Regions from separate parts of the Homo sapiens genome. Here regions 2 and 3 are each linked to region 1. Evidence: fine-mapped expression QTL. A gene starts in region 1. Each other region holds a variant in brackets. All regions are shown on one strand. Distances are between the middles of the regions.

Evidence for each region.
Region 2: its variant is fine-mapped to the expression of FOXF1 in spleen (GTEx, PIP 0.96).
Region 3: its variant is fine-mapped to the expression of FOXF1 in monocytes after R848 (Quach 2016, PIP 0.95).

The regions. Positions count from the first base shown.
Region 1 is chr16:86,505,831-86,514,628 of GRCh38, forward strand. It overlaps FOXF1 (forkhead box F1), which reads left to right and starts at 4,697. Exons shown (of 2, transcript NM_001451.3): 1 at 4,697-5,718; 2 at 7,095-8,798. The coding sequence starts at 4,740. The coding sequence ends at 7,255. FENDRR (FOXF1 adjacent non-coding developmental regulatory RNA) reads right to left here and starts at 3,030. Exons shown (of 4, transcript NR_033925.1): 1 at 2,825-3,030. RefSeq lists an enhancer at 6,190-6,956.
Region 2 is chr16:86,119,119-86,125,198 of GRCh38, forward strand. No RefSeq gene overlaps it. Among named protein-coding and RNA genes, the nearest start is that of LINC01082, 74 kb to the right of the region's middle. The variant C/T (reference allele first, on the strand shown) is at 2,124.
Region 3 is chr16:86,344,122-86,350,185 of GRCh38, forward strand. LINC00917 (long intergenic non-protein coding RNA 917) reads right to left here and starts at 1,558. Exons shown (of 7, transcript NR_024406.1): 1 at 1,371-1,558. The variant C/T (reference allele first, on the strand shown) is at 3,230.

The DNA.
Region 1 (8,798 bases):
ATCTGGTTCCCCGCTCGGGTTACGGCGCGCTCTCGGCCCGGGCGGCTTCGCTTAAGCAATTAGCTAGTAAAAATACCTTGGGCCTGGGGAGTGGGAGACGTTGCAGTCGTGTCCGTTTTTACACACCCACCCCCGCCCTGCTCGGCCAGTTTCAGGATTCCTGGGGCCAGAGATGGGGCGCAGATTTGTTTTGGGGTGGGAGGGGGCCGGTCTTCATGGATTTTAATCCAAGAGCAAAAGGCTGCCCGCGATCTCTGTCCCTGTCTGCATTTTCTCCTCCATCCCTGGAGCTGAGCCCCTGGGGTTTTTGTTTCTGTTTGTACAACCTAAGCCTTCCCTGCATGGTCTTGTCCAACCCTCTGTACGACCCCAAGAAATAGGAACCATGATGAGTTCCATTTTTCAGATAAAGAAACTAAGGTGCAAAGAGCTTATGCATCATCCTTACATGGTGGGGCGAGTTCAAATCCCCCTGCCTTTGGGGTTCGCGGCAGCGGGGCCCCTCTGCCCTGAGCACCGCTGAGCCTCACCCCGTGGTCAGGACACTTAACGCCCTGGTTCTGCAATCAGGCCAGGTTTGGATACTGGCTTTGCAGGGTGACCCAGGACCTGGAGTGACCTCGCAGAGCTCCAACTGTGAATGAGGAGGGAAATTATACTGACTTGGTAGGGGCATCGGTGAATATTACACAAGTCTCTTAGGGACACTTAACCAGTGTCCTGAGTTCATGGTTGGTGCCTCACAGGTTCACAGATGGGCTCCAGACATTTGGCGAAACCTTCAAAATCATTCTACGAATGTCACAAATATGCACCTTCTGGGGGCGGGGGCAGGTCGGACTAATTTTCAAAGGATTGACAGCCAAGAGGAAGGTTAGGAGCAGACAAGGGCAGTTCATCGAGTGAGGAGCAGCGCCTGGTGCCTGGGCAGCAGTGGATGAGCCTGTTATTATCTAGTATTCGTAGTTGTCATTGCTATTTTATCACCATCAGTTCCCCAACGGGGGCTCTCTGTCCCCTTGGCCCTGGGAAGCCAGGGCTGTGTAATGATGGCAGAGGCATTTCTAAGCCCCATTCTCTCCACTCCCCGCCTACACAGAGGCACATGGGAGAGTGAAACGCCAGGAAATTTTGTCCTTGGACGTAGAGAGGGGAGATGGAGAGTGTTCACCTCTCAGTGCTGGCTGATAAGAGATTCAAGTCCATGCTGAGCCTCAGTTTCTCCACCCTAAAAATGTAGGATCAAGGGAGACCTCTCAGGGACATTGTAAGAGCTGAGAATGAAGTCTCTGAGCATGAAGGAAAGCCCTTCTTGCTACGGCTGTGGTTTTCCCCAGAATTCAGGGGGTCCCCTCCAAATTACAGAGCTGGGAGCTCATTCGCCTCCTCTCTCACGCCCCCACTTCTACACACACCCAGCAGTAGAGATGAGCAGTTGGGGAGAGCCTCCATCTTTGGCCTTCCTGAGACTCCCAGGCCTACTGGGCCGGCTCTTTCGCTGGGCTCCGTGACTGGCTGTTCTGTAAGGTCTGGTTTGCTATCAGAGCCGGTGAAAGGGCAGAAAGAAGGGTGGAAAGGAGGGAAAAATGGATCTCCGGGTTAGCCAACGATGGGACCTGCGGCTTCCCTTCCCCAACTGAAGAGGGCCCAGGAGTGAAGGAGTCTGCTGGGAAAGGGCTCCCCAACTTCATGCTCTAGGGACCCGCTCACTTTGAAGGCGCCCCATGAGTGGGGGAGGGGCGAGGGGAAGGGAGATGCTATTTCCACTTTCAGCGAGCCGCAGCGTGCGCCCTGCACCCCTAGCTGGCTTAAGAGCTGTGCAGCCTTCTCTGCTCACCTCTGCTAAGGGCCAGATGTGCTCTGGCAGTCGGCAGTAGCGACCCCTTCCTGGGAACAGAACTTTCCTCCGGAGGCCAGGGTCTCCTCATCTGCAACTGCCATTTGCCACACACACACACACAAAAGTTGGGAGAGAATGTGAGAATGCTTGTGTTCGTGGACGCGTGCGCACGTATGGAGCGGCGGTACCTATGATTATTTGCGCGTGGCGCCTGGCTATGCGTGGGCGAACGCGCAGTGGAGAACATGTGGGCGTGCATGAAGTGTGCACTTAAACCAAAGTGTGCCCTCCCCGTTGGGCAGGCCTGTGTGTTGGTCCAAGGGTTGGGAGCGCCTGAGCTGTGTGAGGGTCGCTGGGAAGGGTGTTTGAGGCCGTGGGCGGTGCGGAGCGTGTCTGTGTGCGCGGAGGCTGAGCTGGTTGTGTGAAGTGGTAGCGGGTCTGCCAGAGAGCGTTTACCTGCGTGAATGCACAACCACACACTACGGGTCACGTCCCACACTCATTCTTTCCCTAGGCGGGCCAGGCTGTCTGCACGCGGAGACCCAGAGAGGCCAGCGGAAGGGCAGCGCGGGAAGGCGGCTCTCTTCTCCCGCGAGCGCAGATCTGGCGGAGGAGGCGGCGACTGCCCGGCAGGCTGCGCCGGCGAGCCCCCCAGCTCCTCTCACCGACGTGCCAGGCGCCCCGAAGGCGACAGGCGTCTCCCGCCGAAAATGAAGGCGTCCGAGCCAGGAAGGTGGGGGCGGGTAGTTAGCGGGAGACAAGGAGTCCGGAGAAAACCGAGAGGCGGGTAGGCTTTGAACGCGCCGCGCCGCGGGCCGTGCTGCGAGCCCGGCACACGCCTCTCGCCCCAGCTCGCGCTGGGGCTTGGCCTCTAGGCTCTTCGCGATGACCCGCGAAAACACCCCTCGCCCCCCTCTTCTCAACTCGGAACCCTGGAGGGAGAGGCCGCGCCCGGCCAGCAGTCGCTGCGAGAGCAGCACTCACCTGGGTCTGTGCGCGCCGCGATGCGCCGGGGCTCCTGCGCTGTCCTGCGCTCCGCTCTCGGCACCACCTTTCGTGGCTCCACCGCCCCCAGCCCGCACCCGAGCGCTGAGGTGGCAAGGGCAGGTCTGCGTGCGAGCCCCCTGCGGGCTGGCAGCCAGGTGCGCGAGGGCCGCCCTTGCCGGCGCTCCCAGCCCGCGCTGTCTGCTCTCAGGAACCTGGCCTGGCGCGCAGTGTCAGAGGCCCCGCGGCGGCGGCAGGCCGAGCCCACAGGGGCATTAGGCCAACTCCCCCCTCCCGCCCTGCGCACGCGGAATTCTCTATTATTATTATTAAAGAATCCCCCAGAACTTGTTTACGTTAAACCCTGTAAACTTCCTGCCAGGGCCTTTGCCATCTCTCGGGAAATCGGAACCTGCGCTTTGAAAACGGGGCCGCGGGGCCAAATAGGCGGGTTTTCAGTGTGTGTTGGGGGTGGGGGAGGGCAACTGAACTACGTGTGAGTTCAGATCCGAGCGTGGCGTGTGTACGCGTGAGTGGGAGTGAGTGCGAACTTAAGCTCCTGTGGGCCTTAAGCTTCCGTGTCAACGAGTGCATTAGTGGGTGCGCACATGCCTGAGCGCCCTCTGCATATGAGTGTGCACACACGCATGGGTGTGTTTACACGTCTGTTTGCGTAATTTACCGGGTTTGCATGTGCATCAAGACATGTATGTGTGTGCTAATGTGTGGACAAGAGCGCGAGGGTGTGCGCGCACGGGTGAGTGACTGAGCACGCCGCTTATTCAGGGGCCTGTGCGGTCTGGGTCGCCTCTGGGCCAGCGGGTTCTCACTCGCCCCCGTCAGGCCCGCGGCGCCCGAGACAAAGCGGCCGCGACTCGTGCTGCGCTTTCGTTTTCCGCCTGCGCTCTGCCCCGGCGGCTGCCCGCCCGCTCGCAAGCTGCTGGGCGAGTCCGAAAAATCCCGGGAGCGGCGCAGTTCTTCCCGGGGCGGGGAGAGTGGGTAGGCGGTCCCTCGCGGGAACTTAGCCGGCCGGCCGCGAGGACCGGAGTCGAGCCGGCTGTGCCTGCGATGGTCACGACCGGGAGGCCGCCGCACTTGCGATTTGCTACAGGGCTGTGCGCGTCGGGGAAGGCCCCGGCCCAGGGAGCGTTTCCCGCCGCGCCGCCCGGGCGGGGAAGGCGGGGTCCAGCGCGCACCGGGGCTGAACCGCGGGCGGAGGGCGCATTAACACTTGCTCGCCAGGTTGGTGGAGGCGGGGCGGATTCTGCTGGCGGCCGCGGGGCGGCGAGAGTGGGGGCTCTTTAAGCGCCCACCAACGCGGGGGCCCGAGGGGGGCAGGGACGGAGGGAGGGAACTCCGGGAGGGTCTTAGGCCGACCCGCGAGACGCAGCCGAGCGGAGATGGAGTGAAGGCTGCCTCGCCCGGAATCTCGGAGCCGAGCGCCGCGGGCGGCGGGGACTCAGGGCTGCTCCCGGCTGGGGCGCACGGCCGTAAGACCTGGAGGTGGTGCCTCCCCCCAAAAAATACCGGCGGGGGTAGCTTCCTCACGGCCTTCGCCCGGGCTGCCCTCGGCCTCAGCTCGGCTCCTTTCCTTGTGGGAGGGCGAGAAAGAAAGAGGGAGGAGAGAGGTGGGGGAGGCGGGAGTTGGAGAGAGAGGGGCTCTGAGCCAACCGCCGGCGGATCCAGCAGCTCCTCGGGGAGGGCGGGCGGGAGCGCGGGGGCGGGCGCGCCGCGGCTCGCTCGGGAGAAGTGGCCGCCGATGACGGCAGAGGTGCAGCCAGCCCCGCGCGCGCAGCCCCCTCCCCTTCGCCCTCCTCCCCCCCGTCGTCCTCTTCCTCCTCCTCCTCCTCCTCCTCCCGGCCCGTCCGCGGCGCAGAGCAGCGGCGGCAGCGGCGGCGGCGGCAGCAGCCACCCGATGTCTTCGGCGCCCGAGAAGCAGCAGCCACCGCACGGCGGCGGCGGCGGCGGCGGCGGGGGAGGCGGCGCGGCCATGGACCCCGCGTCGTCCGGCCCGTCCAAGGCCAAGAAGACCAACGCCGGCATCCGGCGCCCGGAGAAGCCGCCCTATTCCTACATCGCGCTCATCGTCATGGCCATCCAGAGTTCACCCACCAAGCGCCTGACGCTGAGCGAGATCTACCAGTTCCTGCAGAGCCGCTTCCCCTTCTTCCGGGGCTCCTACCAGGGCTGGAAGAACTCCGTGCGCCACAACCTCTCGCTCAACGAGTGCTTCATCAAGCTACCCAAGGGCCTTGGGCGGCCCGGCAAGGGCCACTACTGGACCATCGACCCGGCCAGCGAGTTCATGTTCGAGGAGGGCTCCTTTCGGCGGCGGCCGCGCGGCTTCCGAAGGAAATGCCAGGCGCTCAAGCCCATGTACAGCATGATGAACGGGCTCGGCTTCAACCACCTCCCGGACACCTACGGCTTCCAGGGCTCGGCCGGCGGCCTCTCGTGCCCGCCCAACAGCCTGGCGCTGGAGGGCGGCCTGGGCATGATGAACGGCCACTTGCCGGGCAACGTGGACGGCATGGCCCTGCCCAGCCACTCGGTGCCCCACCTGCCTTCCAACGGCGGCCACTCGTACATGGGCGGCTGCGGCGGCGCGGCGGCCGGCGAGTACCCGCACCACGACAGCTCGGTGCCCGCCTCCCCGCTGCTGCCCACCGGCGCCGGTGGGGTCATGGAGCCGCACGCCGTCTACTCGGGCTCGGCGGCGGCCTGGCCGCCCTCGGCGTCCGCGGCGCTCAACAGCGGCGCCTCTTATATCAAGCAGCAGCCCCTGTCCCCCTGTAACCCCGCGGCCAACCCCCTGTCCGGCAGCCTCTCCACGCACTCCCTGGAGCAGCCGTATCTGCACCAGAACAGCCACAACGCCCCAGCCGAGCTGCAAGGTGAGTGGGGAGGCCGAGGGCGCCCTGGTCCCCGGGAAGTCGAGTCTGAGTGGCAGCGGGACCCAGCTGGGGCGAGCCCCTCCACTTCTGTGGTCGGAACCCCAAGGCTGAGGGGAGGCACCAGCTCCCCAAGGTGTCTCTTGGCCCCACCTCTCCCCCTTCGAAGAGTGACTACCGCTCTTGACCCTAGTTTGGGCCAATCTGTTTCTCTTTCTGTTCGAACTCCAGCTGCCAGCTGCTCCAGGCCTGACCAGGTAGGCTGGTCCTGAGCCAGATGTCCCAGACCCCAGTGCCCTAAGTCCTTTTGTGTCCCTTAAGTCCCCTCACAGCTTGGAAAGATCCTGGGATGGACCCAAGGCTCCCAGCGCTGGCCAGATGGCTGTCCCTCCCTGGTGGTGGCCCTCAGGCTGCCTGGAGGGCTGCCTCTGCCTGGGGCTGGGCGGAACGGAAGGTGTTAGGCCCAAAGCCGCTGGGCCAGCGCTCAGAGGCTCAGCCCCGGCCTTTCAGGGGACCAGACCTGGCAGACCCACAGCTGAGTCCAGGGGCATTTTGTGGTGACTGAGGCAGGAGGGTGCCGTGGCCAGGCCCCGGAGGGTCAGAGCTGCAGACCGGGCCATGGGGGCTCCTTGTTTTTTAGGATCCAAGTTTTCAGGTCCCCACACCCCCAACACCCCTGATACCCCAATACCCCGAACATGCAGAAGCATCTGCCAAGGGAGATGCAGCAGCCTCGCCTCCTGATTCTGCCCCAGGCCCCCCGCAGCCTGCAGGCCCAGCTCTGGAAAAAGCTGGAGTGAGCTTGCCAGGGCCAGTCCAGGGTCAGCTGTCAGCAGCCCCAGGAGGCAGGAGCCAGGCCTGGAGGCCTTAGGCAGCCTCTCTGCGGGGGACTCCCCGGCTCCGGGGCCTGTTCTCTGGAGAAGCTTCTTCTCACCCCTGCTGCTGGCCCGGCGCTGGCCCTGCACTGGCCTCTCCTTCAACCCCGCCGGCAGTCGTAGCCTCTGAGGTTGGGGGTGGTGGTGGCTGCCCTGGCGGTGACGGCCATGGGCGTTAGGGGCCCTCCACTTGGTCTCCCTCACCACTTCCCCTATGGCTCTGGAAGCCCTGGGCCCCTGCACGGTGTCCGAGGCTGGACAGGCACGCAGCAGGCAGGCAGGCAGGCAGGCAGGCAGGCCGTGGCAAGTGTTCTGGAGTCTTTTCCTTGGGTGCGCAGCTGGAAGGCCGGGACTCGGGGAGGAGAGCGGGGAGGCGGCCGTGCTCTGGAGCCAGGCTGACAGGCCCTGTGCGCCCCACGGGAGCACTGCTCCTCTGCCTGAACTCTGAGCCACCGTGGCTAACTCTTCTGCTCCCCCAACCCCTCCTGTCGCCTCGCCTTGCAGGCATCCCGCGGTATCACTCGCAGTCGCCCAGCATGTGTGACCGAAAGGAGTTTGTCTTCTCTTTCAACGCCATGGCGTCCTCTTCCATGCACTCGGCCGGCGGGGGCTCCTACTACCACCAGCAGGTCACCTACCAAGACATCAAGCCTTGCGTGATGTGAGGCTGCCGCCGCAGGCCCTCCTGGTGCAGGCAGGCGGGTCACAGGGACCCTGGACCGGCACAAGAAACTGCTTTCTTCTCGAGGTATAACCGTCGGCAGAAGAAAAGGGTTCCACCTCTCCCCAACCGGAGTTTTTGGCAAGGAGTCCCCAATGCAAAGACACAGCGCTGCGGTTGGCACCTCCTTCCTCACTCCTTCAAAATTGTTAAGAAATGTTAGTGGTGGGTCTGATCTGACTGCAGCCATCGGTAAATAAAAGTTTTTGATCCTGTTGAACCCGCCTGAGACGGTGCTGTGCAGGGGAAAGCCCCCGCACCCACACAGGAATTCTGCTGAGGTCCCCCCTCCTTCCGGCCAATGGCAGAAGTGGGGGAAAATTTTTAGAAGAAAAGCAAACATGTGAGACCAATCATTATCAAATACTTTTATTTTTTGGTTGAGTATTTATCTTTTTATTTTTTATTTTTTTTTTGAAAGAATGTCTTGGAATGCGCAAGTCTCCCTTTAGAGCCGTCTTTTGCAGGGAGCGGGAAGTGACAAGAGCTCAGATCTCCCTCCCGATCTCCCTCCCCACCTCCGAAGTCTCCTCCGTGGACCACAGGTGGATCTTTGTGCGAACAACTTGCATTTCGGAAGCCACTGTCCGTCTTTAAACAGAAAGTCAAAGGAGCCACGAAGCAAGCGGCCGTCCGGGCGTCCGCCTCCGTCCCCTTCCATGTTCCTCCTCTTCCTTCGCTTCAGCCTCTTCTGTTATGTTTTGTCTTGAATTTTATTTAGACTTTTTCAGTGGGTATTTTTCTGTCTCCCAACCTCTACTGTAAACTTTCTGGTCCGAGAACGAGCCGAACACAGCGCGACGCAGGGACTAGGACGGCCCGGTGACCGCGCGGATTCAGGATTGCGGGGACGCAGAAAGGTTAAGGCACTTTTAAAAACTATAGCAAGGCTCCTGTTTATTTATTCTACTTTCTTTCCCTAATAATCAAAACACCGCGTAGGCTCCTCCGTTTATCAGTATTAATGGTGTAACTTTGTTGGCAATATTTGCCGTGTAGAATTTTTTTTAGATATCCATTGTAAATTTGAAACAAAGACCGATCTGTGTAAAAACAAATTTCCATATGTTTTATATAAATATATATATAATATGAAGGACTACCCTCCTTTTTTTTTTTTGTATTTTGGCTGCTAGAGTGCAGCATTTGTGACACGTATTTGAAATTTGAAATTTCCTTCTGCACTGTATAAAAGGACCATTTGAGGATGTTTTGCCTTTTGTGTATTTTTTCCTAAAAAAAGAACAAAAATAAAAATGTATAACATTTGTACATGGCCTTTAAAATTGTATCAACTAGAAATAAAATTGCATGAGTATTTTATTGGGACTGAGATTGTAGAATACCTTCCAGACTCCCAAAGATAGAGGGGGGAAAAAAGAAAAAACAGGCTTTGGATCTCTAGACGCTTAAAAATTTACAATCTGGGTGATTCTGAGTACTTTTTTCTTTTTTGGCAAATCCTCCTCTTTTCACTCTTCATTCCA
Region 2 (6,080 bases), 390 kb before region 1:
GTAGACAGAGAGGGTAGGTAGCCTGCCCAGGGTCACACAGCAGCTGCCATCTGGGGCCCAGATTGGCCTCCCTGCCCAACTGCTGTTTCAGGCGTGGAGTGAGGGGTTCCCCCCAGAGCCCTAGAGAGCAAAAGTCAGTGCCTTGGGGTTGTAGCAGGTGGGGGCAGTCCTTTATTCTGTACACAGGAGGTGCTCAGGGCCGGTTGTCACAGTGCCATCCTGCTGTAGCTGGCTGTCTGAGGGGGAGCAGGACAGACTCTCAGAGCACAGGTTATTTTCATCATGAGAGCATCCCTGCATCACCACGGTTGACACGGTTTTTAGGGTCCCAAGTTGATCTAGCAAAACCCAGCTAAATCAGAATGTAGCAGAAATAGAACCACCCCTTGACCGCCAGAACCTCTTTACTTAGTCAAATATCTAAAAGTAAATTGTAAAATCTGTCAAGGAATCCCAATGAATTAAAAACTCAACATCCCCTTTTTTAATACTGACCTTGTATTCCCCTTGTATTCCTTTTACTTTTCTGCTTCTAGTATGTGCTGACATCAAAGACCAAATAACCAAATGTACTAACATTGTGGACGAAGTACAATACCAATAGCAGGGACCTGTGGGTAAGCTCTAAGGGCTTCAGGGGCTTCAGGGGACTGGACTTTGCCCATCTCTTTTGGTGCTCAGAAATTTCTAGTCAAGGATGACAATGAAGAATAGACAGGAAAAAGCTATTAAAAAATAGTTGGTATAGGCTGGGCACGGTGGCTCATGCCTGTAATCTCAGCAATTCGGGAGGCTGAGGCAGGAGGACCACTTAAGCCCAGGAGTTTGACACCAGCCTGGGAAGCATGGCAGAACCTTTTCTCTACTAAAAATACAAAAATTATCCAGGTGTGGCAGCATGTACCTACTTGGAAGTCCCAGCTACTTGGGAGTCCCAGCTACTTGGGAGTCCCAGCTACTTGGGAGGCTAAGGTGGGAGGATTGCTTGAGCCCATGAGGTAGAGGCTGCAGTGAGCCAAGATCGTGCCACTGCCCTCCAGCCTAGGCATCAGAGCAAGACACCTTGATCTCAGTGTCTTTTTGCACCTGCTCCCTGCTTTCTTGTCGGCATAGCACAGCCCCATCTAGCCCTGTATGATGTGTGTTTCTGTGTTACTTTCTCTATGAGAATGTCAGTGTCCTGTGGGCAGGCATCTTGTCTGTTTTATTCTCTGAAGAATCTCCAGTGCCCACGAGAGCTGTGGCACATAATAGGTGCGAATGATGAAATGAACAAATGTACCTCCAGAGAACATGGCTGTGGGAGCTGCCCATTGATTCATACTCATCTCCATGAGTAGAAAGCCTCCAGATAATTCAGAATAGCTTTTCAACTCTGTGAGAAATGTGAAGCTTATTTTGGAAAAAAAAAACTTACATAAAATGATTGAAATGTTTAAAAGTTTTGTTGATCAAAGCAGCACAAATGATGCCCGCACATGCTTAGGTGGGCAGCTTAGCTACAGTGTGGCTGCGTTTCTTTCTGTTGCTTAGGAAATGAGCTACAAGGCGTGGTGGTCTGAGTCACAGCTTGTTAGTAAGTTAGACCTTAACCTAGCACTTGTTTTTTGATAGCAAAAAAGCATAACTAGCTTGTTTTAAGTGCAGGAAGTTGCTGCCATGCATAGCACCACATCCCTTTTTCCTCCTCCTCCTCTTCCTCCTCCTCCTCCTCTTCCTCCTCCTCCTCCTCTTCCTCCTCCTCCTCCCCCCTTTCCTCCTCCTCCTCCTCCCCCTTCTCCTCCTCCTCTTCCTCCCCTTCTCCTCCTCCTCCTCTAGCTCTTCTTCCTCTCCTCCCTCTCTCTTTCTCCCCACCAGCCTCCAAGCTGGCTCCGCAGTTCTTATCCAAACAGGAGGTGCATCTGTGGGATTTGCCCTGATTTATGGCCAGCAGGAGTGCCAGTTCACACCCCCATATCTCATCCTGAACAACCAGTTCTGGCCTTAGACCCTGTTTAAATGTTAAAAGCAAAGTGTCAAGGTAGCGTTGCTTTTTGGCTTAAGGTTATGAGCCAGATTTTAGTGAGGGGGAAGAACAAAAACATGGCCTATCTAGCAGCATCAAATTGGGAATTTCCCCTGTA[C/T]TGAAAAACGTATTCTAGGGTCATGATCTCTTGGGGGTTCATATTTTTCTTTGCCAGCCCCATATGTGTAATTAAAGCCCATATTTAAAATGAGGACAAGATCCCAGGGCTACTTTCTCACAATAATCAAACCAACTCCTGTTTCCTTTCCCTCTCCTCCTCCTTCTCCCTGTCCCTCTCCCCTTCCCTCCTCCTTCTCCCTGCAATCCTCCCTCCTTCTCCTCCTCCCTCCTCCTCCTCCTCCCTGTCCTTTCCAACCTCCCTCCCATCCTCTCTTCCACCCTCCTCCCCCTCATCATCATCCCCCCACCTCCTTGTTGCTCCTCCTCCCTGCCCCTCCTCACCTCCCTCCCATCCTCCCTTCCACCCTCCTCCTCCCTCCTCCTCCTTCTTCTTCCTTGTTGCTCCTCCTCCTGCCTGTCCCTCCCCATCTCCCTCCTATACTCCATTCCTCTGCCCTCATCCTTCCTCCTCATCCTTGTCCCTCCTCACCTCCCTCCCATCTTCCCTTCCTCCCTCCTCCTCCTCCTCCTGCCTCCTTCACCTCCTCCTAGTCCTTCCTCCTCCTGCTTGTCCCTCCCCACCTCTCTCCCTTCCTCCCTCCTCCTGCTTGTCCCGCCGCACCTTCCTCCCTTCCTCCCTCCTACTCCTGCCTCCTCCTCCTCCTTGTCCATCCTCCTCCTCCCTGTCCCTCCCCACCTCTCTCCCGTCCTCCCTTCCTCCCTCCTCCTTGTCCCTCCTCCTTCTCCTTGTCCCTCCCCACCTCCCTTCCATCCTCCTCTCTCTCCTGCCCCTTCTCCACTTTGATCTGGAGCTGCTGCCCGGGCTGATGCTGAGGGTGACTCTTGGTGACCAGACACTGCAGATCAAGGCCAGCACAACTGAGCCCACAGTGCTGAGCGTGCATCCCCCACGTGCAGCCCCCACAACTGCAAGAGGTGAATGCTCTTCATTTTGCAAAGGAGGAGGATGAGACTCACGAGGTCAGGAAGTCTGGGACCAAGGTGTGACTTCAGATTCCAGAACTGGTGCTCATGGGGTAAAAGGGGAGGAGAAACGATTCCTGCTCTGGGGCAGTGTCTTTCAGAGCTGGCTTAGAGCCTCCATCCAACAATCTCCTGGGCCAGGTGAAGAGACTGGGTGTGGAGAGGCCTTGCTTGGGCTGCAGCAGCGAGTGGGGCTGTGTCACCCTCCTTACTCTGTCCGAATCCCCGCTCAGTGGTCTCTCCTCCTCCTTAGCCTCCTCGTTAGCCTCTCAGCCTTCTTCTCTGTGCTTGGTCTTCAGCTCTCTCCTCCTCTCTCCCAGTCTCCCAAGGTGATGATCAGAGCCTCCAGAGTGGATAAGCCTGTGGGCCCTGGAAGCTGACCTCTTCCAACTGCACCGACAGCACCCTTGATTCTGCCAATGGGGGTCCAGCAGGAAGTCGGGGGAGCGGAGGAGTGAGGCCAGGGGCTCTGTGGGGTCTCCCCAGACTGGCTGCTGCCCTGGCTGCTCTGGGACTGTGGGCGAGTTGCCAAGGCTTTCTGGCCAGAGGTGGGAATCCTCCAGCTTCTCTCCCAGGCTGGCCCCGCCTCCACGACCCTCCTTTCAGGCCCCCACGGCCCCCACTAAGGCCTGGGGCACCAGCCCTCAGCCCTCAATGCTTTGGACTACTTCCTGTCCTGTTCTGCAGGTGCACTCACCTCCGCAGCAGAACACACACTGAGGGCCGAAGCTCCTCCTCCTGCGGCACGGAGTCCCCACCTGTGTGCCGGTTTCCTGGAGACTCTGCCCTGCTACTTGGACCCAGAGGAAGGCAGATGTTTGGACCAGGAGCTCTCGACCTTGCACATTGCAGTCAGCGGGGGCTCCGCAGAGTCTGATGCCCAGGCTGTACCCCAGGGTTTCTGCCTCCAGTGGTCTGAGGCGGGGACAGCTGCTAGGCATTTAAATGCTACCCTGGAAACTCCAAGGTGCACCCAGGACAGAGAACCATGTGCTGAAAATGCTGAGTGTCAGTGCGGAGGTGGGATGTGCGAGGGCCATGATTTACCTCCACAGCCACAACATGCCAGTAGCATTTTTTCTATAAATGCAAATGTTTTAGATAGTAGTATTCAAATTATTTGAAACAGGACTATCTTTTTAAAAAATAGTATCCCTTTAAAAATCTTTTTTTTTTTTCTTTCTGTGGCAGGGCCTCACTCTGTTGCCCAGGCTGGAGTGCAGCCACACCATCTCGGCTCACTGCAGTCTCTACCTCTTGGGCTCAAGTGATCTTCCCGCCTCAGCCTCCTAAGTAGTCACCACACTCAGCCAATTTTTAATTTTTTTTTTTCTGGAGATGAAGTCTCACTCTGTTGCCCAGGCCAAAGTGCTGAGATTACAGGAGTGAGCTACCGCACCTGGCCAAAAATCCAAACTAATATTTAATAATAACAGAATGGTTACTTCATACCAGGCACTGTTCTCAGCATTTTGCCTATTTTGGCATTTAAACTTTGCAGCAGTAGGCTGAGGTAAAAACTATAGTTGTCCCATTTTACATAGGGGAATAGAGGCAGGGAGAGGGCAGGTTGCCAGAGGCCAGGTCACTGGCTAGGACATGGCTGGACTTTGGCTGGGATTGGGGGGCAGGTGGGCTCCACACCTGTGCACATAACCAGCCACACCCAGCCCTGCAGTGCCTTGTTACCATCGCCTAAGCAGTGTGATGCTTGACAGGATATGCTTGAGTACTGTTTTATGATCTCCAGTTCACATAAAAATCAATATGGAGGCCAGGCGCGGTGGCTCACACCTGTAATCCTAGCACTTTGGGAGGCTGAGGTGGGTGGGTTGCCTGAGCTCAGGAGTTTGAGACCAGCCTGGGCCACCCGGTGAAACCCCGTCTCTACTAAAACACAAAAAATTAGCCAGGCGTGGTGGCATGCACCCGTAGTCCCAGCTACTTGGGAGGCTGAGGCAGAAGAATTACTTGAAGTCGGGAGGCAGAGGTTGCAGTGAGCTGAGATTGCACCACTGCACTCCAGCCTGGGCAACAGAGTGAGACTCCATCTCAAAAAAAAAAAAAAAAACCAATATGGAATATTGAAACAAAAAGCTATTCTGTACATACTACTTAAAGTCATTTGGCCACCAGAAACAGAGATCTTGCTCTTTGGGAAATAACGGGATAGAAAGAGTGCTTGCATGGGAATTTGTTTCACATTTGAATACTAGATCCGCCCCATAGGCACGGGGCCTGTCACCTTCCTGAGTGCCAGGGTCCAAGCAGCTGTAAGATGGAGATAATGACACAGACTTCAGAGGGATCCTGAGATGGGAGGTGAAATGCTAACCAAAGCACTGAACAGGCTGGTTTCCTAGCAGAGGCTGCAGTTCTCAGCTATTGGCGGCCAATGGGGGTAGTAAAGGGGATACCACTTTGTGAACCTTTTAACCTGGGCCTCTGTCAAGATGGGAGGATCATTGACTGGTTAGTCTATAAATAGGGCCAAAGAGACCTAAGAGAATTTCATGGAATTGTAACCTTCTGTCCTCCAAATAATCTCAAAGGCAATAAACCTTGCTTGCAGATCAAGGGTTTTCAATGTTTTTATGACCCAGCTCCCCTCTAATGACTTTTCCGGCATTTCCCAAACATCACTGAGCCCCAAGCCCCCTGGTAGTGAGTCTCTGTGTGTCTGACAGCTACGCTGACCAAACCATAATCAGTTAGTGACCCCTCAAAGTAATGGTAGAAGTTTGCCTAATAAAATAAAATTAGCTGTCTATAGAAACAGAATTTGATATACATCGAAATGTGGAAGGGGAAATGTTAAAACTCTAAAGGGGGAATATAGGAGAATATCTTCATGACGTTGGAGCCAAGGCAGCTTTGTTAACATGAAAATATCATGATCTACAAAGGAATTTGATAAATTTGACTATATTAAATGAAAAGACACAATTCTCTTGTTCTTAACAAATACACC
Region 3 (6,064 bases), 160 kb before region 1:
GCCCTAGCCACAGCAATGGCTTTCACAGGAAAGAAAAAAAAATTCTCTTCTCTTTCTTTTTCAAGAGAGGGACTCTTGGTTCCTTAGTAAACATAGATGCCTGGACTCGGTGCGCAGCCTAAGGTCTCTCTCTCTTGGCAGTGGCCCAAAACGCTCTCCCAAGCAAAAGGGAAAAGAAGACAGAGGGGGGTTGGGGATTGTGTCAGGTAGTGAGCTGTTTCCTGGAGAAGCCTGCGTCTGGTTCCAGAGGGAAGTGAGTTTCTAAGAGAAGGCATCTGTAGGAATTTTGCCCATCAGCCGTGACACCAGCACTGCTGTTGGAGGGATGAACAGCTCATGACAAAGTCCTGTCTCCTCTCTCCCCTTCCCCGTGTCTGTGCAATATCATTAGAACTGGCAGACCCTTATTAAAAACAGTTGGCCACTGAGAGGCTATATCCTGTGTGAGACAGAAGCCCAGATGGTAGGTGGTCTTACTTTTGGGGTGGGGTGTTCCAGGTGGTAACAGCCTCGAGGGCGGGAGGACCATGCCGCCTGTTTCTTGGCATCCGTAGGTGGTTCCTGCCTCCTTCCCTTTGGCAGGTGTGTGGGAAGGATTGAGTGTGAAGGGATGCTCACAAGCACTGAGAAGATGGCCTGGCACTTGTGAAATGACAGAGGTGGCCTGGGAGGTGTCCCGGACCCTGGATTTAATGTGCAACACATGGTTCAGTCGGTCCCAATGTTGGGACTGTAGAGAACGTACCAGAAGCCTCACAGATACTCAAGGAGTCGTGATTATTAGGACTGGGCTGAGTTAGCTCTATCTAGTACTTTGTAATTTTAAAGACCTACTCAAGCAATATTACAATATAAACGGGATCACATGGACTACCTTTCTACTTCAAACAACTCCAGAGGCATCCTGCTGTGGATAACAGAAGCTGATTCTCTTTCTCTCTCCGCCTCCTCCTCGTCTTCCACCTCCCTCATAAAGCATCCCCCAGCACTGACAGGGTACCGTCATAATGATGGTTATATTGAACTATGTGAGTGCCTACTCTTTGCTAACCAAACTAAATTATTAGTTGCATCATTTCATCTCAACTTCACACAGTTATTATATTTTTTCCTTTTTCTTTTATTATGGCAAAGTCTAGTTAATGTAAACCTTGCCATTTTAACTTTTTTAAAGTGAATATTTCAGTGGCATTGGGTCCATTCGCATTATCGCACCACCATCGCCACCGTCCAATTTCAAAACTGTTTCCATCCTGCAGAACTGGCACTTAGTATTCATTACACGACCCCCTCCTGCAGCCACGCTGGGAGCTGACCCTCTCCACCCATGCTTCGTGCACTCAGGCGCTCATCCAGGGATCATCCTGTACCTCAGACTCTGCCAAGAACTGTCCGGCCCCAGGGCCTTTGCAAGCGCAGGTCGCACGGCCTGGGATGCCCTCTCCCAGCTCACCACATGGCTGGCTCTTTCCCATTCATTGGCCTCAGCCCAGTGGCCTCCTTCTCGTCAGAGAGGCCGCCCCTGCCTGCCCTGGCTGGCCGGCCCCTCCCCCACAATGACTCTATGACATCATCGTGTTCCTTCTCCTCGGAGCCCTCAGACCCTCTGAAATCCTCTGGTCTGTGTTTTGTTTCCTCCGTCTCTATCTCTCTCCCCACTAGAAGGCAGGTCTCAGGAGGGCAAGGACCCGGCCTGTCCAGCTTCCAGCCGTAGCCCCAGGGCCGGGTGTGCAGTAGATACTCAACAAGCCTTCTTTCCTCCCACCAGCCTTTCCTCCACAAGGGGAGACAGGACTTGGGGGTGTTTTTGGGGGTCTAAACAACACAAAGGAAAGAGACGCTGAAGTGGGTGAGCTGGCCTCGCACTGCACTTCCTGCTGGAGTTCAAAGTCAGCCCTGCCCCTGGAACTGCCATGGCCAGTTTAGATTGTTCCAGAATCCCGCTGCAGGCTGTTCAAAAGGCTCCCAGCTGCTATCAGGAAATAGCTCAGGAAGGTCCCTGTTAAACACCACCCCCATCCCCGTAACCCTGAGCAGCCCTCCGCCACCTGCTATTTTCTATCTCTGAGAATTTGCTGACATTAGGCAAGTCATGTCTGTGGAATTATACAATGTTTGTCCTTTTATGAGTGGTTTGTTTCACTCGGCACCATATCCTCAAGGCTCACTCATGTCATAGCAGGTGTCAGAACTTCCTTCCTTTTTAAGGCTGAATAATATTCCACTGTATGGATGGACCACGTTTTGTTTATCCATTCTCCTGTCAATGAACATTTTCGTTGCTCTCAGCATTTGGCTGTTAGGAATAGCGCTCTGAGGACATTTGTGCACACGTGTTTGCATGGATTTAATTGTTTTTCCTTTTCTTGCCTGTTCTTGGGTGTCGTGGCCAAGAAGCCACTGCCGAGTCCAACATTGTGAAGCTTTCCCCCTATGTTTTCTTCTAAGAGTTTTGTAGTTTTTTTACATTTAGTTATTATGGTAATGCCTTTGATCCTTTTTGAGTTAATTTTTTGTATCTGGTGTAAGAGAAGGGCTCAACTTCATTCTTCTGCGTGTGGTATTTGGTTTTCCAAATACCATTTTTTGAAAAGACTGCCCTTTCCCCACTGAAGGGTCTTGGCTCAAGACACTTGAATGTCAAATAAGTCAAAGGGCTTCTTTCTGGGCTCTGTGTTCTGTCCCATTGGTCTATCTGTCTGTATGTAGGTCAGGACCACAGTGTTTTGATTGTCATAGTTTTCTAGTAACTTTTGAAATCAGAAAGTGTATGACTTCCAACTTCCTGGTTTGTATTTTTACATTTTATATTTTGTCCCCATTTTACAGATGAGACAAAGGAAGCTCAGAGAGGGGAACTGACTTCCGAGGTCACAGAACAAGCAAGGGTGGGACAGGATTTGAACCCAGGCTTGTTTGACCCCAGCCCCTTTCAACAAACATTTCTGTCTCAGCTTGGATCACAGAGCAAGAAAGTTACAGCCCTTCCCAGCCCCCTTCCTGTCCTGCTGATGAATTCAGCTGGGGTGGCAGCCTCGACACATCTCAAAGGCTCTGATACGGTTTGGCTGTGTCCCCACCCAAATTTCACCTTGAATTGTAATAATCCCAGCATGTCAAGGGCAGGGCCAAGTGGAGATCATTGAATCATGGAGGTGGTTTCCCCCATGCTGTTCTCATGGTAGTGAGTAAGTCTCACGTGATTTGATGGTTTTTTAAATGGGAATTC[C/T]CTGTCACAAGCTCTCCTGCCTGCCACCATGTAAGACCTGCCTTTGCCTCTCCTTTGTCCTCTGCCATGAGTGTGAGGCCTCCCCAGCCATGTGGAACTGTGAGTCCATTAAACCTCCTTCTTTATAAATTCCCCATTCTCAGGTATGTCTTTATTAGTAGCGTGAGAACAGATGAGGCTCACTGGACTAGCTGGTGGGGGAGGAGAAAGCAGCCCATGTTCCCTCTCTCAAGCAGGACCATTTTGTTTTCCTCAGTTTCCCTCTTCCACTTCCACTTGGGGACCCCCACAGCCATGGCCAGAGAGAGGGAGCTTGGGGTCCCAGTGCCTGGTACAAACTCACTCTGCCCCTCACTGCCCTTGGGGTCCCCACTCTGTGGGGTCAGGGACCGGGGTCCACAAGGAACTGCTTGTCGCCATCTTCCCACCCCCCACCCCAAAGGGGCTTGAGCATGTTCCCAGGCTCGCTTTCCCCACTGAAGGAGGGGTGGCTGTGTGAGTCCTTCCACTTCATGACCCTCTCTGTTTCCTTATATGTTCAGCAAAGGCTTGACTGAAGTCACGGGTCTCATCATTCCTTTCCTAAGCTTTCTTCAAACAGCATGGTGCGTGGATGAGGACACACGTGCTCTGTAGAAGGTGGGGCCACAAAGCCCTGCCGACCGACCTTTCCTGCCTTCTGCCTCTAAGGTGCAACCCCGAAAGCACCTGCTGGAACCTTTGGGGCTCAGGGAGCACAGCCTGGAAGCAGGGGGATACTCCCCAGGGCTGCAGTCCACCTCGGAAGCTGCTCACCACAGGTGTCTGCTTACACTTCAATTCAGATCACATAAGATACACATGCAGCTCTTAGGCTTCTGAGCCACCCTTCAAGAGCACAGCCACTCGTGGCTAATGGCTGCTGACTGGAACCCTGGATGGCCCAATCTGGAACTTTTCATCACCCCAGAGCATCCTGTGCAGTGCTTCTCCCGGGGAGCCCTGCAGGCAGTGACCTCCAGCTCCGAGCCTGATCCCACATGAGCAGGAAGAAGACAGCCCAGGGAGGCTGCCCACAGCCACAAGCTCATTTCTCATGGCAAACCACAAATGGGAGATGCTAAGAAATTAGAATAGAGGATGCTCCAGAGCAGACGCTCCTGTTTACAGGTACCTGGTTCTATACAGTCACGCATGAAAGGAAAATGGTGATATCTAAGAAACAGAGGAATCCATGGGCTCAACCAATGAGGTCGTAAGGAGCTCTAGGATGGGGGTGTCACAGAGGTCTCACATGTTTAGGTGGGTGGAGAGTTTCAGAGCATGACTGGTTGATAATAACTGGTAGGCACTGTTGGCGGACGGCAACCATGCCAGGCATATAGCAGGGTGCTGCGTCTTCTCTAATTCTCACTGCGGCCAATGAGTTTAGAGATTTTCACTCCCATTTTAGAGATCAGCTGAGACACAGAAAGGCCAAGCAGCTTCCTCAGTCAGAAAAGGGGCAGAGCCAGGGTTCACCCCCTGGCAGAGCCATGCACCAGTTCTGCAGAGCCCAGGACGGGGTGAGGCCAGTCGTGAGGGACAGAGAAAGGCCTAAAGAAAGAGGAGGACAGAAAAAGGGCCCGTGTTGGACAGAGAAGGAGCGATTACTGAGGCCTGAGGTCAGGCTCATGGAGGGCACTGGCCTGTGGTCCGCAGTGGCATTCAGAGCATGCGTTGGTCCTTCCACCACCATGTATAGCTGGTGCCCTTGGAGATTCCATCTGCTTTCCTATGGGGTCTGTGAGGTTGGACTTCGGGAGCCCATTTCATGGACCTGAACACTGAGTATCAGAGGGAAGAGTTTGCCAGGGGTCAGCCTCTGTATCCTCTCTCCCCACGCTACATCTGAGATTCACCCAGAGGGGCCCTTGGGGAAACACCCAGTTGTTGAGAGCAGCAGATCTCAGACTTGGGCTTGCATGAGGGTTCCCTGGAGGGTCTGTGACGGGGCCGGGGTGGGGCTGAGAATGTGCATTTCTAACACACAAACTCCTTTCATCCTGCAGAGCTGAAACTCAGTACTCATTAAACAACTCCCTCCTGCAGCCACGCTGGGAGCTGACACTCTCCACACATGCTTCATGCACCCAGGCGCTCATCCAGGGATCATCCTGTACCTCAAATACCCCCAAGAACTGTCCTGCCCCAGGACCTTTGCACATGCTGGACCCACTACCTGTGATGCCCTCTTCTGGCTCACCACGTGGCTGGCTCCATCTCATTCATTGGTCTCAGCCCAGTGGCCTCCTCATCAGAGGGGCTGTCCCTGCCTGCCCTGGCTGGCCCAACCCCTCCCCCACAATGACTCTGTGATGTCACTGTGTTCCTTCTAGGAGCCCTCAGGGCTCTGGAATCCTCTGGTCTGCACCCAGGTGGCACTGCTGCTGCTGCTGGTCCAGATACCACCTTTTGAGAACCACTGGTTTAAGGAACACGCCCCTCCCTGCTCATTCAGTTGAGGCCTCTCCTCAAGAAGATATCTTTGCATTTGTTGTTTTTGTGTTGCTTTGTTTTGTGTTGCCGTAAAGATGTGAGATGCTGCTCCTGGGACTCCAGGCTGATTCCTGACACCAGCATGTCTGCATTTTTGCAGAAGACCAGAGAATTCTGGGGTTCGAAGCTATGAGGTTTTGGGGTTTCTCTAAGGCAGTGGTGGGAGGAAGACCTCTCCCCTGAGCCCTCTCTCCTCAGCCAACCAGGAAGCTCAGAATTCCACAGCCTCCCTGACTCCCACCTCAGCAGGCACCAAGATTGCTGTAATTCGGCACTGGCAGGTCTTGCAGGAGTTCAACTGATCCTGGATCTCGCTCC